2 separate regions of the Homo sapiens genome follow, and region 2 is reported to be linked to region 1. The links are microRNA targets in miRTarBase. Many come from high-throughput screens and were not tested one by one. Region 1 holds a microRNA gene; the other region holds the end of a gene's coding sequence.

Region 1 (7,000 bases):
ACATAATTCCTCAGCCTTTTCCTTCTGTGATATTAGAATTTTGGAAGAATACAGGCCAGTTATTTTATGGAAATGTTTCTCAATTTGGGAGGATCAGATGCTTCCTCATGATTATATTCCAGTGGATATAATACTACAATAGTGGTCTGGTGTCCTTCCCAGGACATCACTTCCAGAGCCCCTTGATGGCATGTTGGTCTGCCCCTCATGTGCTATGCCAATTTTGATCACCTGGTCAAAGTGGCATGCAAATTCTGCAATGTATGATTATAATTTGTCCCTGTTGAACTAATCAGTAACCTATGGAAAGATTCGTTAAGAACATTCAAACTAATTTTTAAGTATGTGCTTATTGAAAAAAATTAAAATACAAAAATGTATAAGGTAAAAAGTGATAATGCCCTCAAGTCTCACTTGTACCACTCTTAGACAAGCGATAACCCATCACAGCTTCCTATTTCCTTACATATCTTCACGTCTCTGATCAACTGGTTTTGACAGCCGCAGAAATGTAGGGCAATAAATGCTAAACTTGACTGAAGTTTCTGTTCTATTTGAATTGGTAAGAAATATTCTTCAATCGTTGATCATCTAGTGACATTTCAATGGAGACAATGATTAGTTGTAGCCCTGTGACCTAGGTGGGAGTGGGGAGGGCAGGAACAAGAATATATTTAGGCATATTTTACTATTAATTTTGAAGGAATTTGGCCAAGATGAAGACAAGATGGACTGATCCACTTGTGAATTAATGCAATGTATAAAGGCAAGTTAAAGAATCAGTTTTGGAGCCATGCTATCCTAACAGGCTATTTGGTGCCTCCTCCCACCACATTCTGTAAACCACTGTGTAAAAAGGAGACCTGCCATTTCAGAGGCACTTCCCAATTAAATTCAAATGCAGAGACAAGCATACTCATGACACAGAAAAATTTAGTGTGGTTTCCATGGGCTGACGTACAAAAAAAAAAATTGGAAACATCTAAAATATTTTAGAAGGGGGAGATAAGTTGAGTTGCCACTTTTAAAAGAATATATTCCCACATTTAGAGAGCAGGTATACAAATGAACTAGCCACCTCACAAAGTGAAGAGTGAAGGGTGACCCCAAAAAAGACTGTGAGAGGAACTTTGCCATTCAATACAGCATAAGCATACCATACAATATTGAGTGAGTTAACTTGTTATAATCAATATAAGGTAGAAACAGTCCCTTTAACCTTTAGATGAAGCCCTCGTTGTTTTTTTGTTTTTTGTTTTTTGTTTTTGTTTTTTTTTGAGATGGGGTCCTGCTCTTCATCTAGGGTATATGTAGTGCAGTGGTGCGATCAGGGCTCGCTGCAACCTCAACCTCCCAGACTCAAGCAATCCTCCCACCTCACCCTCCTGAGTAGCTGGGACCACAGGCACACACCACCACACCCAGTGAATTTTTTGTAGAGACAGGGTCTCACTATGTTGCTCAGGTTGATCTCCGACTCCTGGGCTCAGGCAATCCTCCCACCTCAGCCTCCCAAAATGCTGGGATTATAGGCGTGAGCCACCATGCCCAGCCTACAGCCCTTGTCATTTTATAAACTGAACAGTGCTGACATATTTCAACTGTGATTTATAAAGGCTGAGAAAATGTTCCTCACAATTCCACTTCAGCCAAATGCCTGGCAGACATTGGCAAAGGTTTCTCTTACTTGGGCTTATAAATGTGTGTGTGCATGTGTGTGCATGTGCCTGTGTGTGTAAAATCAGCATACACACACACACGATACACAAACTTGCATTTCCTAATAGTTTCTTGATATCAATGATGGTGTTTAAAACAGTTCCCATATGTTACAACTTGTTCAAATGATACCTCCTTATTTTCTATGAAATTGGTCAGAGGAGTCTGACTGGTCATTTGGTCTCACGATAATGTAACCACAATTTTTAATTATGCTTTCTGCTTCCTATTTTTTATATACTCATCTCATTTAAAATGCAATATCTGGGATCATTTAAAGTATAAAATTGGGATCAAGAGAAGTTACCTACCTAAACACGAGCAGACTAAAATCATTTTTCAAAAGAGGAAAAAACAAAAATCACAAGAAAATTGGTAGATGCCCTATATAAAAGAGGCTATTTTGCATAAGACATACTTTCACCCTTTCATGCTATTACGATTACCTGTTTAATTCTAACAGAGAATAGAATACTTGCTAATGTTCACAAGGAATACTTGCTGAAAGAAGAAAGGTGTACGGTGTTATAATGACTGAGTTTTCACAGCTAGCAACGTACATTTTTAAACCATGTCAGCAATGAAAACAAAACTGTGAGTCTCCCCTCTGTGTGTCCTTTTTCACAGGGCAGTGCCCAGGCATACTGCAACACCATTTCACCACCAGGGCACACGCAGTTGCCATCAGTTTAAGAAACGCCCAGGACTTTGCTAGCAGGACAGGTCTATGACGGAAAAATGGACCAAGGTTTCCTCTAAACCATGCTGCTTCCCTTACTTTCACTTTCAGGTTCTATAAAACATGTTCACTACTGAAGTAGTGAAAATACATCTGCCTTACTTTACTAGTCCAGCTGAAAGAGATGAGAACGCATCAACTGATGATTTCTTAGGTTTAATCACATCAAATTCCTGGGAATAGGCATTTTTGGTTCTAGTAGGTCTGCAACTTGGATGCATCCTGCCTTTTGCCCATCTGATAACTAGTGGAATACCGGTCAGAAAGAGATGAGCTGCTCTGAGGTACTGGTCTTACCAATTCAGTAAGTGGAATGGTAAAAAGCTGTAACTCTTCCTCAGGAATGGAAGATATGTCATTAGTGTGAAAGGAGATAGAGGCAAAGACCTGAAGAATGACGATAACCAGACATCTTGAGAGAAAACAAGAAGCAGGGAAGGGGTTCCGGGAAAGCCGGAGCTGTCAGTAGAGAATAATGATTTATCTGATGAGATTAGCAGACAGTTTGATTAGAAAAGATGCCTTTTTAACACAGCAAAGATTGCAATGTTACTTTAAGATTTGTTGTAGGAAAAAGCCGTGCCTGCCAAATGTGGTCTGTAACAGCACAGGCTAGCCATGAGTGATACAGTGGGAAAATAGCCACTAAGCCAGATTTTATTTGATTTGTACTGATGATTTTTATTAGAATACATGGATCATTGCTTCAACCTTTCCATGTAAAACCAAATCAAATTCAAAAACTCACACATCAGTCACCTAACCTTATGTCATTCCTTCTGCTTTACTCAAGTTGAGCCACATTTCAGCTGATCTGTCCCCGATAAATTGTTCAGCTACTCAAAACTGTTGGGCCAAATTCTGGGAGGCAAGTGGTACACAAAAGAAACCGCGAAATCTGCAGTTACAAGTAAGAAACCTACAGAAAAGAAATACTGCAAGCTTCCGAAATGCAGAATGAATTCAAAACAATATACAGCCATGCAAAACAAGACAAAATGAATTATCCTTATTGTACCAAATGAGTTGTAATTTGTTTGTAAAAGGCCCCCACTTCCCCCAGCTTTTTTTACTTAAGCCCTTTTCAATTCAAGACACTGTAAAGAATTTTGCAACCAGAGAAAGTCCACAGTTCTGTGGCATAAGGAGATTTAAACTGCAACAAACAGTTTTAAAATTAAAAATGTTCAAACTTTAAGGTGAAAATTATAAATGTTAAATATTATATTGGTGGGAAATCTCTGTATTATTTAGAAGAATTGTTTCATTAAAAGGAATGAAGTTTAATTACATGAAATATGGCAATGGGTTTCCAAAGAAAAAGTGCCAATAATCTACTTCCCACCATTTCTTTACCTTTTTTGTTTTTGCATTAACATTTTCCCTTTCTTCCTCAAACATTGCAAGTTTCATTTTAAACCTGTAACCAATACTTATGTCCATTTCTAGTTAACAAATCAGTTCCATCTTCTGATTTCCTTTAGTGTCCCAAACCACTCTGAAATGCAAGTTATTATTTTCTCCTCAGAGAAGGTAAATAACTTCCCCAATGACAGGCCATCAGCAGTCCAATGAAGACATGAAGACCCAATGTCTTCATTGGACTGCTGATGGCCCGTCACTGGGAAAGTTATTTATATGTGGCTCATGCTCAACCTCTGGAAGACACTGGATTTTATCAAATACCCAATACCTCTGAAAACTAGTGGTCACCAAACTTGCAGGCCTCTGGTGTAACCCTCTGTGGCTAAAGCCAGGCTATGTTTTCACCAATCCCCATCTCTTTCTGCCCGTGACCACCTAGGAATCTGAAATTCCCCATCTTCCTTTGCAGTCATGGGATCATATGACTAGGATTTGGCCAATAAAATGTGAGCAGAAGTAATACTTGCCTTGTCCAGACCTGGCCCTTAAAATTTCCCATGTAATCGTCTATGCACCACTCTCCTTTTCCTCTTTGATCAGCCTGATGCCAATATCTAGTGAACTCCAAGGTCCTAGGGGATAGCAGACCTGAGCCATGGAAGAAGCCAGGCTAGGACCAGAGCCCACCCACGTTGCTCTGTGACACCGGAGGGTAATAACCCTCTGCAGTGTTAAGCTACTGAAGTTTGGGGATTGTTTGTTCCAGCAATTAGCATACCCTGACTAATGCATCTTCCAAAACAGACTTCCGTGAATTCTGGCACTATGATTCTATCTTCCAAGTAAAGCAAACATACGCAGTTAGAGCTGGCACCAGTCAGAATTCTGAAGCAGGGGAAACTGGTCTTTGAACTATCCTTCTTTCCCTTTCAGACTTGTTTTCCCCTCTTAGCATTTCCTCCCTCTGAGCACCAAATGTTCTCAGGCTGCTCAGTCTCGTCTGTCTCAAGAAAATAGACACAAGATATTCATTATCCATTCTTTCTCTTAACCATTACCTTTTGAATACCATGAGCTGCCTGCTACCTGGGAAATTCTGAAGAACATCTTTAACATCTCACATTGAATGTATCCTCATCTGTAAAATGGGAATGACCGTATTTACCCTCCAGTACTGTTGTGATGATTACAGATAACAAGGAAAATGTTACCATGGAACCTGGAACACAGTAGGAACTCCAAAAAAAAAAAAAAAAAAAAGCGGGGGGGCGGGGGGAGGATATTATGTGTATTACACTTACTGTTATGGTCATAGCATGATATTTGACACCAAAAGGATACAAAATGTACATAAAATAGGACGCTTTCTCTCTGAAATATATAATCTAGATTGGGAAGAAAATCTTACGAAAATAAAATACAGTATTTGGTTACTAAAACAAACATAGCAGAATTTTTGAGAAAGGTGAGTTATATGGGCTAGAATCAACACTTGCAAGGTACTGGTGATTTAGGACAGAGTGATACTAAATTTCAAAGGGGCCTAACAGAAAGGTTCATGATTAACCTAAGGGAATAAACTGCTACACCTCAACATTTTTCATGTCACCTTGTGTAAGGCGTGGCCCTGTTCCCGGTCTCTTTATTGATTCAGTTATTAATTCTGTGTCAACCCTAATACAGATGTCACTAAAATCAAACAAACCCTAGTATCACAGTGGTGGGGGACAAGGATTGATTTTACTTTGTACAAAATCTGGCATAGGCCAGGCGTGGTGGCTTATGGGCCGGGTGCAGTGGCTCACGCCTGTAATCCCAACACTTCGGGAGGCTGAGGAGGGTGTATCACTTGAGGCCAGGAGTTTGAGACCAGCCTAGGCAATATGGTAAAACTCTGTCTCTACTAAAAATACAAAAAATTGCTGGGCGTGGTGGCAGGCACCTGTAATCCTAGCTACTTGGGAGGCTGAGGCAGGAGAATCACTTGAACATGGAAGGCGGAGGCTGCAGTGAGCCAAGACTGTGCCACTGCACTCCAACCTGGGCAACAGAGCAAGACTCCATCTCAAAAAAAAAAAAAAAAAAAAAAAAAATCTGGGATGTATGTAATTTGGAAAGAAGGAAAGAAAGCAGTGGCATCCTGGTGAGCTCTCCGGCATTATATGTGTATTTCTCTAACTCCATTTCAATTTTGTAACACACTGGTAACTCGGAACTGGCACAATGTTGGAAGTATTTACACCATGGAAATTGGCAAAAATGACCAATAACGGCTTTTATTCTTTGAAAAAGAGGTTATTAAACATTTACCACCACATCAATGAAAACAATCATTCATTGTGAGGTATTTGTACTCAAATTGCTTCATTTAACTTTCACAGCCATTACTCAGGTAGACTGTATTATCCTCATTTTACAGATGAAAAATCAGGCCTCACAATGGTAACTGATTGGCAAGAAATCCTGTTGTCTGTGCTCCCTGCACGAAAAACCAGGATGCTTACAAAAGTGAAGAACACCTGGATTTCTTTTTCTCAGTATATCGAAAAGATATTCCCATGAAGACAGAAAGCTGTACTTTAAAAACATCTAAATTCAGGCAGTACTCCTCCCAAAACCTTTAATTTTCTACTCGGCTTCATTTTGCTTCTCTACTCATGTAACTCTCCACTTAATCAATATATACTTCATTTTTACCACCCTGACTCCTAGACGTCCAATTCAACATTTTGGACCTATGTCCTTCCAAGAATAATCCCTTACAATGTCTCAAGAAATAGACTTATGCCTAATGACTGCGATACGTTATGAACAATCTTTAAATCAGTGATTCTTCATACACCTGTCCTCACCAAGGTAGTCTATTCCATCTTGGCCTGAGCTACAGTTACAATGAGCAAGTATGGGTTTAGAAAGAGCTGGGAGATTCCTTGAATTCAGATGAGGTTTCTGATATTTATTTAATAATGACTGTTGTCAACAGCTAGCATCAGGATTGGAGAAGGGCCTAGGGGTGAGAAAAGCCTGAAAACTTCAACAGGTATCAGGTGCAATCTGAGATACAGTGGATCTACTATATTAGCAAGGACAAAATGGTTCTTTGTACCCCTCACCTCTGACACTTCCATGTCAACTTCACCCTAAAGCAGGCTTCTCTCATGGTCATAGGATTCCAGA
Region 2 (10,392 bases), not on the chromosome of region 1:
CTTACTGTGTCACCTTGGGCAGGTCTCGTCATCTTTGATGTCTCACAGTTGCTTCATCTGTTAAACAGGGAGCTCAGTGTCTGTTTGTCCAGCTTCTCAGAGTTGCTGTGCAGCTCGGATGTGGCATAGGAAACAGCAGACACAGGGAGAGGGCAGCATAAGGCACTGTAGGGAGCAGTGGCCACATTTTCTGGTGAGTCCTGTGGCAGGAATGTTTGTGCATTCAGCACTGGAGCATTTACTCCCTGTCTGACACTGGGGTAGCTGCCATGAGGGGGATTCTAGTATCAGAGTCCCTCCCTTCTGGAAGTTTCCAGGGCAACAAAGACATAAGACAAACATCCTTGAAATGTTATCTAAAAACCCAAGATTGAAATAATACATACCACACAAGGAAACAGGAGAGTAGTCTAGCTCCATGTCCGGGGCTCTAGGGGTTCATAGATGGCAGCTCCTGTCCGGGGCTGAGGTTGGGAGGGGAGAAACAGGGGCAGAGTGAGTTGGTCTCTGGAGTGACTGTGCTTTTCCACCCTCAGCAGAGGAAGAACCGATGCTGGAACGTCGTTGCAGGGGCCCCCTGGCCATGGGCCTGGCCCAGCCCCGACTCCTTTCTGGGCCCTCCCAGGAGTCACCCCAGACCCTGGGGAAGGAGTCCCGCGGGCTGAGGCAACAAGGCACGTCAGTGGCCCAGTCTGGTGCCCAAGCCCCAGGCAGGGCCCATCGCTGTGCCCACTGTCGAAGGCACTTCCCTGGCTGGGTGGCTCTGTGGCTTCACACCCGCCGGTGCCAGGCCCGGCTGCCCTTGCCCTGCCCTGAGTGTGGCCGTCGCTTTCGCCATGCCCCCTTCTTAGCACTGCACCGCCAGGTCCATGCTGCTGCCACCCCAGACCTGGGCTTTGCCTGCCACCTCTGTGGGCAGAGCTTCCGAGGCTGGGTGGCCCTGGTTCTGCATCTGCGGGCCCATTCAGCTGCAAAGCGGCCCATCGCTTGTCCCAAATGCGAGAGACGCTTCTGGCGACGAAAGCAGCTTCGAGCTCATCTGCGGCGGTGCCACCCTCCCGCCCCGGAGGCCCGGCCCTTCATATGCGGCAACTGTGGCCGGAGCTTTGCCCAGTGGGACCAGCTAGTTGCCCACAAGCGGGTGCACGTAGCTGAGGCCCTGGAGGAGGCCGCAGCCAAGGCTCTGGGGCCCCGGCCCAGGGGCCGCCCCGCGGTGACCGCCCCCCGGCCCGGTGGAGATGCCGTCGACCGCCCCTTCCAGTGTGCCTGTTGTGGCAAGCGCTTCCGGCACAAGCCCAACTTGATCGCTCACCGCCGCGTGCACACGGGCGAGCGGCCCCACCAGTGCCCCGAGTGCGGGAAGCGCTTTACCAATAAGCCCTATCTGACTTCGCACCGGCGCATCCACACCGGCGAGAAGCCCTACCCGTGCAAAGAGTGCGGCCGCCGCTTCCGGCACAAACCCAACCTGCTGTCTCACAGCAAGATTCACAAGCGATCCGAGGGGTCGGCCCAGGCCGCCCCCGGCCCGGGGAGCCCCCAGCTGCCAGCCGGCCCCCAGGAGTCCGCGGCCGAGCCCACCCCGGCGGTACCTCTGAAACCGGCCCAGGAGCCGCCGCCAGGGGCCCCGCCAGAGCACCCGCAGGACCCGATCGAAGCCCCCCCCTCCCTCTACAGCTGCGACGACTGCGGCAGGAGCTTCCGGCTGGAGCGCTTCCTGCGGGCCCACCAGCGGCAGCACACCGGGGAGCGGCCCTTCACCTGCGCCGAGTGCGGGAAGAACTTCGGCAAGAAGACGCACCTGGTGGCGCACTCGCGCGTGCACTCCGGCGAGCGGCCCTTCGCCTGCGAGGAGTGCGGCCGCCGCTTCTCCCAGGGCAGCCATCTGGCGGCGCATCGGCGCGACCACGCCCCCGATCGGCCCTTCGTGTGTCCCGACTGCGGCAAGGCCTTCCGCCACAAACCCTACCTGGCGGCGCACCGGCGCATCCACACCGGCGAGAAGCCCTACGTCTGCCCCGACTGCGGCAAAGCCTTCAGCCAGAAGTCCAACCTGGTGTCGCACCGGCGCATCCACACGGGCGAGCGGCCCTACGCCTGTCCCGACTGCGACCGCAGCTTCAGCCAGAAGTCCAACCTCATCACCCACCGCAAGAGCCACATCCGGGACGGCGCCTTCTGCTGTGCCATCTGTGGCCAGACCTTCGACGACGAGGAGAGACTCCTGGCCCACCAGAAGAAGCACGATGTCTGAGACGGTGGGCGGGGCCGTGTTGGCTGAGAGAGGGCTGGGGTCCTTCGTGGTGGGAGTCGCAGTGGGCTGGGGGTGCCTGCCTAGTGCTGGAGTAGGGGACAATGGGAATCCTAGAGGGGATGGAAGACGCGGGGAGTGAGCTGGGTGGGCCCTGCTAGCGAGAGAGGTCAACCCCGGTGGCCAGGGAACCCACTTCCAAGCGCAGGGACGCCGGCCTCCAGCTGGTGTGTGCTAAGGCTCCGTCCTGACTGCCCTGTGCCCTGGAAAAGCAGCAATAGCATCCGCCCCTTAGAGCCCTCTGGCTAGAGGAGCCACCAGTGGAAAGGAAGACCCTCCATCCTCTGGTATTAACGCCTTAATGCCCCTGTCTTTTACTGTAAGTTACTTAAGATCATTTTTGGAAGCAGGCGTGGTAGAGTCCTGTAAATGAATGCTCTGGGCTAGATACAGCTTGGAGAACCTGCTGGCCTTGTTAGACAGCACTTGGGCCTTTGCCAGCAGCAAGAGGTGAAGCGAAGCCACTCTTACCTCTCCCTTCCCCTCCCACCTGCCCCCTGCGTAGGCACCCAGACTTGGAGAGACCCGTCTGCTGTTAATACTTCCATCCTCTTCCTTCCCAAAGAGCAGATCCCAAGGCATTTACTCCTTGGTCTGTCTCGCTTTATCTGTCGCCCCTCCCAGCGCTGAGAGCCTCCCCTGGCTGTCAGCAGCACTGTGTCCAGGCTCTTGTCTGAACACCGCAGCCCCTCCTTCGCTCCTTCCAGAGCTCAGCATGTCACGGCAAGGACTGCCGCATTGGTGATGGAGGGCCAGCTGAGGGGAAGTTGCTGGTGAGTTTCCTTTTCTCCATTTCTAGCATATGGACACCTGGCCTCTGCTTGAGCACTTAGGTGACAGGAACTTCCGCACCTCCTGAGGCCCTGGATGATTCTAATTGTTAGAAATTCTAATTGTTAGAAATCCTTCCTTATAATGAATGAATTCTGCTTTCCTATAATTTCTACCTATTGGGCCTTGTTCTGTTCTCTGGAACTAAACAGAACAACCATTTACCCCTCCTTTTCAAACTAGAGAATAAAGATTTGGTTTTAGAACTGGTGGCTGGGGAGTGTTACTTTTTCTGGGGGAGCTGCGACATGTCAGGAGGAGCAGCATGCTCTCCTCCCTAGAAGGACGGGGGGCTGTGGGTGGGGCTCTGGCCACAGGCCACATGCCCAGCTTGCTGAGCTCTGGCCCCCTGCCTCAGTTCTTCCCTGAGCATACCCAGGCAGTTGGGCTAATTCTCTGGGTGGTGGGCCGAAGCTCCAGAGAACTGTGGTGGGTGGAATGCTCTCAGCTTGGTCCCAAGATTTATGTTCTTGGTCACTTGCCCTCCTAGATGGGCCCAGCAACACCTAATCTTTCTCACCACCTGGGCCTTTATGAAACTACAGCAAGCACTATGAGCTCTTTTGAGGGGTGCTGGGTGTTAAACGGACTTTGGTTATACTTGGACTGTGCCTCCAGTAGTCCTTCAGAGGTTGGACAGATGAAGGAGCCTCTGGGAGGGGAGGCTGTTCCCTGCAGCTAAGACAGCACTCAGCTTCCACACTCCACACACCAGGGTTTCAGCCTTCTTTGAGGTTGTTGTCAAACCCAGCCTGGGTCCACTTGCCCAGTGTTTGCAAAGCCTAACACCGACAGTGAGATTTGCAGCCAGAGAAAGTAAGGCGTTTATTGCAGAGCACCAGGCGAGGAGAATGGGCAGCTAAGGCTCAAACTCCCTGATGGCTTTTAAGCAAGGGTTTTTAAGGCAGGGGTGGGGAGGTTTCAAAGGGAGTTAGGGGCTGAGGAATTTCTGGAACTTCCTTATCCATTTTCTGGTTCCAGTCTGTCTGAGGTCTACGTGCTGGCATTGTCACGTGGTGACATTGGTGGGGGTCCTGGCTCCTGAAAAACAACTCAAGGATATATGTCAAGATGTTATCTTTAGGCCAGGCATGGTGGCTCATGCCTGTAATCCCGGCACTTTGGGAGGCCGAGGTGGGTGGATCACCTGAGGTCAGGAGTTCAAGACCAGCCTGGCCAACATGGTGAAACCCCATCTCTACTAAAAATACAAAATTAGCTGGGTGTGGTGGCGGGCCCCTGTAGTCCCAGCTACTAGGGAGGCTGAAGCAGGAGAATTGCTTGAACCTGGGAGGCGGAGGTTGCAATGAGCTGAGATCGTGCCACTGCATTCCAGCCTGGGCAACAGAGTAAGACTTTGTCTCAAAACAAACAAACAACCCAAAAAACAAAACAAACAAAAAGATGTTATCTTTAGTTTCTATGAGGAAGCTAACATTCTGTGACTACTACTTGAGTGACTATTGTTTAAGCTATTATTACTTTCTTGCTTAGCGGGTTATTCATTCATTTCCCCAATTCATGGTTGTAGAGCTAGCTAGGTGCCTGGAATTTCCCTGGGAGGGACTCACATTTTTGTTTATTCTCATGCTTTTCAAGTGATGGGCAGAACCCAGCAGGCTCCTAAGTGGAGTCTCTGAGGCTGGGCGTGGTGGCTCACGCCTGTAATCCCAGCACTTTGGGAGGCCGAGGCAGGTGGATCACCTGAGGTTAGGAGTTTGAGACCAGCCTGACCAACATGGAGAAACCCTGTCTCTACTAAAAATACAAAATTAGCCGGGCATGGTGGTGCATGCCTGTAATCCCAGCTACTCGGCAGGCTGAGGCAGGAGAATCACTTGAACCCAGGAGGCAGAAGTTGCAGTGAGCCGAGATCGCGCCATGGCACCCCAGCCTGGGCAACAACTCTGTCTCAAAAAATAAAAATAAAAAAAAATTAAAAAAGAGGGTCTCTGCTCCATCTCAAGGTCAGGTCAGACTTTTCAGGTGCTAGTTGCTAGGCAGGAAAGGGGGCTGATTTGATTCTGTCCTACAGTGTCCCTGGCCGGCCTGCTGTAGGACTCCAGATTTCTGTGAGCAGTCACTCTGTATGCGTCCCTGAATTGGTGGTTTCATACAAATTTGAGTACCTCTTTTTACCAGGCATTAATAGTTCTTTTCTTGCCTGTGTTAGCAATTTCTGCATATATCTCCAGCATTTAGCACAGAGCACATAAGAATAACCACAATTTGTTGACGTGAGTGGCACCTGGTGAAGTTTACCTAAATTATCTCATGTGTCCTTGTGTGGGAGGTAGTCTTCTTTTATACATGAAAACATTTGCCCACAGTCATATAACTGGTAATCACCAGAGGCAGATTCAAATTCAAGTCTGTCTGACTCCTGAAACCTGTGCTCTTGACAACCGCTGTGTGCTTAGTGGATGAACGCTGCGTGCTGCTGTTTTTGGTTAAGTATTAAATGCCAACTGTGTGGGTGGGGCTTAAAGTGTGTAGGATGGAAAGAACAGCTTCAAAGCTTCATATTGGTTTATGGGGTTATGGAGCCACTTAAAAACCTGTGTAGTTGATGGCAAATTATCTGTCAAAGCCTGGGAGCAGAGGGCGTGGTCTCAAGAAAGCCCCAGTCACATTTTTTCTCTTTGTGGGAACACAGGGTTTCCAGGGAAGGGGAGATGGCCAGGAAAGAGTAGGTCGATGTCTGGAAATGATGGGCAGGGAGCAGGGGCGGGTCCTTGGGTTGGCACCTAGGTTAGTATTGGAGCCGTTAGGGACAAGGATGAGGGTGAGAGGGGATCTGACCAGGGGTCCTAACCTTTTGAAAAGTCCCGTTTAAAGGAAATAGTCTGGGATATGGGGAAAGCGGGGTGTGGGTGTCGTCAGTGCTTCACTGCCCACTGCTTGTTATGGGGATGGGAAAGAGAGGTCCAAAGGACGGAAAGGTCACACAAGTGGCCTTGAGGGGGCTGGTAAAGCAGGAACAGAGTCAAATTGTGCCTGGTTCCTTCCTGAGTCCCTTGGTGGGTGGCCCAGTGGTTCTCAAGCCCTTGCTCTGCCTGGTTCATCACCACAGCAGTCACTGGGGAGGACTGCCTGGGTTGTAGGGGTCTGCTGGCAGGAGCTGCCCATCTCTTCTGAAGAATCCACAGTTTTTCTTTGTTTTCTTCTACAATTACAAAAGCATTAAATTATCTTTAAAAATAAATAATTCAGATAATAATGTGAACGTTCTCCTTCATTCCCCTATTCCACTCTCAAAATCCTTTTTGTTTACACTGAGAAAAGTTTGAGGAGTATTCTCCTAACACTTTTTTCCTGTGTATTTGCAAACACATATGCAGCCTCTCCCCCTGGTATTTTTTTTCTTAGTGGAAATAGGATCCCAGAGGTTCTCCATTCTTTCCACCTCTGAAATACCCTTGGTCATGGGATGCCAATCTGGAGGAAGTCTGCTCTGTAAGAAGGAAACAGGCCCAGAGAGTGGAAGTGACCCCCACCGGTGGGGGTCCTAATTTCTGAAAAACAACTCAAGGACATATGTCAAGATGTCATCTTCAGTTTCTATAAGGAAGCTAACGTTTTGTGACTCTTATTTGGGTACTATTGTTTAAACTATTACTACTTTCTTGCTTAGCAGGTCATTCATTCACTTCCCTAATTGCTGGTTGCAGGGCTAGCTAGGTGCCTGGAATTTCCCTTGAAGGGACTCAAATGTTTCTTTATTTTCGTGCATTGAATGGGGGGCTGGTGGCAGACCCCTAAGAGAGGTTCCTGCTCTGTCTCAACACTTGTAGCCAGTGGCAAATCTGGAACTAGAATACTGGTCTCAGCAACAGGAATGTATTCCACAAGCCTTCGTAGAACCTCTTCTAGGTACTCTTCTAGAAAATAAGCTAGGTGTGGTGGTGCATGCCAGTAGTCTCAGGTGTAGTTCAGGTGGGAGGATCCCTTGAGGCCAGGAGTTTGAGGCTGAAGTGCGTTATGATTGTGCCTGTGAATAGCCACTGTACTTTAACCTGGGAAACATAGCAAGACCCCGTCTTTAAAAAAATAAACAGGAGAATGAGACTCCAAAGTGTTGATAGCTAGTGATGTGTGGCCTCTTTATAGGGTGTGTATGATTTTGTATTTTACAAATCCTTCTATAGATAATATAACCAAATTAACGGTAAAAACTCAGTAAGGTATGCAGGCAACTAGAAAATTATTAACCCTATTTTATAGACGAATAAGTCAAAGTCCAGAAACAGAAAAGTATCTTTTATAAAAAGTACACATGAAGTTAGTGACAAAATCGAATCTCAGTCCCCAGTTCCTGCTGTGCTACTGAGGCTAAACCGCAGCCGGGCCTGTGGCAAATGTTTAATCAGCTGTTGACTGAAGAAAATAAGGTCCGCCTGCCCAACAGCAACCGTTTGTAGAGTCTCAGAGGCCCAGCTTCTGTCTGTATCTACCTCATGCCCCAGAGGCAGCTTCTAGCAGCTCCGGAGAGCATCCTGCCAGTGGGAGTTGACCCAGCTGCGCCCCCTTTGAGGGAGAAGTGTGAGGAATTTCCTTACAATGGGGTGGGGAGTTGCGAAGATACTCCTTCCTGAAGGTCTGGCAGTCTGGACCGGGGTGGCAACTGGGCGGAGATGATTCCGCTCACGGGAACCCTACCTAGTAACCCGACCTAGTAACGTAACCTCAGAGCCGTTCCTCAGCTAGAAAACAAAGGGATTAGGCCGGGCGCGGGTTTGTAATCCCAGCACTTTGGGAGGCCGAGGCCGCAGGGTCACTTAAGCTCAAGAGTTCGAGACCAGCCTGGGCAACATGGCGAGACCCCCATCTCTACAAAATATTTAAAAAGTTAGCAGGTTGGGAGGTTCGGTTGAGCCACGGGTTCGAGGTTGCACTGAGCCATGATCGCGCCACTGGGGTCTGAGCGAGACCACCTCCCTGAAACAGAAAACGAAGGGGTCGGGTATAATGATTTCTAAGGTCCCTCGTAGTGAACCCTAAAAGTTATCACACCCCACGGTGGGGCTATCGCGGCTTGAGGGCAGCCACAGCCTCAGCCGGGGTTTCTGTCCGGGCCCTGATGGGTCCCCAGCAGGGAGAAACAGCGTCCGGCGCGCTGTGGCGCTCGGCGAACGTGCGCTGAGTTCAGGCGTTACAACGGGGTCGCACGCGGAGTCCAGGCCTGGCAGGGGTGCCAGGACGCCGCCGGCCATCTGGGGCCCGACCTCCCAAGGTCTCCTCCCCGCGGCCGGCGGCTAGCGCGCTCACGGCGCCCGGGCCTTGCGCGCCCGCCGGGGGCGAGGTCAGCCCTCCCCCCTCGGCTATTGGCTCCAGAGAACAAAGGAGCCGCCCCGCGGGCTGCTCCGATAGGGCCGGGCGGGTCATCTGAGCGGCGCAGCCAATGGAGTGGCTGGGCGGCCCCGGGGATGGCCAGGCCCGCCAGCCAATCAGGCACCCGTGCCCGCCCCGCCTGCCCCGGGAATGGCCAGGGCCGGGAGCCCGGTGCCCAAGTCGCCCTCGGGGTGGCAGTTCCCGTTAACCTTAGCCACAAAGTCAAAGGTATTTATTTCCCCGTCGCCTCCCTCCGAGTCCCTCTGCATTTTGGGCGGGGAGGGGCGGTGCGAGGGATGGACCAGCGCCCGGCCCCGCTCCTCCCGTGCTGCCTCCGCCCGGCCCGGGCTGGGGCGGAGGGATGGGGCGGGGGCCTGGGGTGCCCCGAGCCCCGCGCGCCCCCCGAGCCCCGGGTCTCAAGCGTTCCCTCTGCCCCGACACAGCCGAGGGGAAAGGGGCGCGGCCGAGGGTGGGGAGGGCGCCAGGCCAGGGCAGCGAGGTTAGGAGGGAGGCTAGTGAGAATGGAGGGAGGACGCGGTGGCGAGTAGAGGGGTCGCCCGCGGGCGGTCTCTCCTGGGCTGTCCCGTTGTTCCGAGTTCCCCGTCCCTGTTCGCCTCCCTGATAGATCAGTTTCTGGGGGCAGGAACCCCAATGCTCGCTGCAGAGTGACAGACACATAGTAGGTGACCAATAAATGTGTGATTAAACGAGCGGGGATAAGGATTGGGGGTGGAGATAAGTGAGAGGGAAGCACCGCAGAAGTTGGAAGTGTGTGGTGTCGGGTGTGGCGGAGAACTCCTCTCTAGGAAGATGGGCACAGCAGCCGCGAACTCGGTGGGGCGGGGTGCGGGCATCCCCTCTGTGAAGAACGTTGAGGATATCTACATGTGGAAGGTGTGGAGATGGGTCCTCCTTCGGCCCTTTGAGCAAGATGATCTGAGCTGGGGCTGGGTGTGGTCAGAGCCCCAGGGGTTGGAGGCGGACGACAGCCCAAGGCTTCACAGCTAACTGTTCCCATGTTCATCTGTAAAATGAAGAGATTAGATGGCAGTTGTCTCCTTTCAGCTTGAAGGTTCATGCTTCCGTGCTTCAAATCTGTTTTGTACTGAAATTTCTTTTATTTAAGTGTTCCCTTATGACAGTTTTTATTAATGGATTACTGTGTGTGGAGCCTGTACTGGGTGCAGGGGAGAGAGAAGGACCCTGTGTTAAGATGCATGTAGTCTTGTGCAGACTAACAAATTGATGACAATGATGATTCCATGTAGATGGTCCTAGGTGCACAGGTTAAACAGAGAAGGGATTCCTGGCTGTGCCTGGTGTGTCCAAAAAGGCTTCCTGGTCAAAGCGATCCCTAATCTGGGCTGGGAAGGGGAGAACTGAGCAAGGGCCTTCCAAGGTTGGTCACAGGGTGCGAGGACACGGTGAGTTCAAGAGCCACGAGAGGATGGGGCGTGTCGGGGTGCAATGGGGAAAGATGAGCAGAGTTGAGTTCTCAGTTCCCTCTTATCCGAGGTGTGCGTGCCAGCAAGTCCATTTGGTGGGGGTCTGGGTTTCTGAAAAACAACTCAAGGACATATGCTAAGATGTTACCTTTAGTTTCTTTAGGCAACCACACGTTTCGTGTGGTCTGACTTCCTTGCTATTATTTTAGCTACGATTACCTTCTTATCAGGTTGCACATTTACTTCTCAGGACCAGCTAGGTGCCTGGAATTTCCCTGGAAAGAACTCAAGATTTTCCTTTATTTTCATGATTGGAGGGCACAGCAGGTGCCTGAAGGGGTCCCTGCTCCATCTCACTTTGCTTTCCCAAGGTCCTTTGAATGCAGCAAGGGATGCAAACGTGTTTATTAATTAAAATGTGACACCTCTTCAGAGATTGTTAGCAGCTGGGTTTATCCTCGGCCTTCAGCTCAG

The links. The annotated mature microRNA hsa-miR-4529-3p reads AUUGGACUGCUGAUGGCCCGU and lies in region 1 at 4,057-4,077, shown strand. An mRNA with a match to its seed (bases 2 to 7 or 8) in the 3' UTR can be bound and repressed. Matches are read on the target gene's strand: a 7mer-m8 pairs with bases 2 to 8, a 7mer-A1 pairs with bases 2 to 7 and ends in A, and an 8mer does both.
Region 2: the mRNA of REPIN1 is a reported target of hsa-miR-4529-3p. The part of its 3' UTR that is shown has no 7-base or 8-base seed match.

What each region holds. Positions count from the first base shown.
Region 1 is chr18:55,475,214-55,482,213 of GRCh38, forward strand. It overlaps MIR4529 (microRNA 4529), which reads left to right and starts at 4,008; the gene lies at 4,008-4,085. All of the region lies in intron 3 of TCF4 (transcription factor 4), which reads right to left. The region is part of intron 1 of TCF4-AS1 (TCF4 antisense RNA 1); the gene reads left to right.
Region 2 is chr7:150,370,692-150,381,083 of GRCh38, forward strand. It overlaps REPIN1 (replication initiator 1), which reads left to right. Exons shown (of 3, transcript NM_001099695.2): 3 at 537-3,348. The coding sequence ends at 2,254. ZNF775 (zinc finger protein 775) reads left to right here and starts at 8,639. Exons shown (of 3, transcript NM_173680.4): 1 at 8,639-8,701. It overlaps REPIN1-AS1 (REPIN1 antisense RNA 1), which reads right to left and starts at 2,252. Exons shown (of 4, transcript NR_183429.1): 1 at 2,150-2,252; 2 at 387-464; 3 at 14-165. It overlaps ZNF775-AS1 (ZNF775 antisense RNA 1), which reads right to left. Exons shown (of 2, transcript NR_183445.1): 2 at 9,154-9,497. RefSeq lists enhancers at 1-119, 2,647-2,766, 2,827-2,976, 7,628-7,787, 9,798-9,857 and a silencer at 8,198-9,007.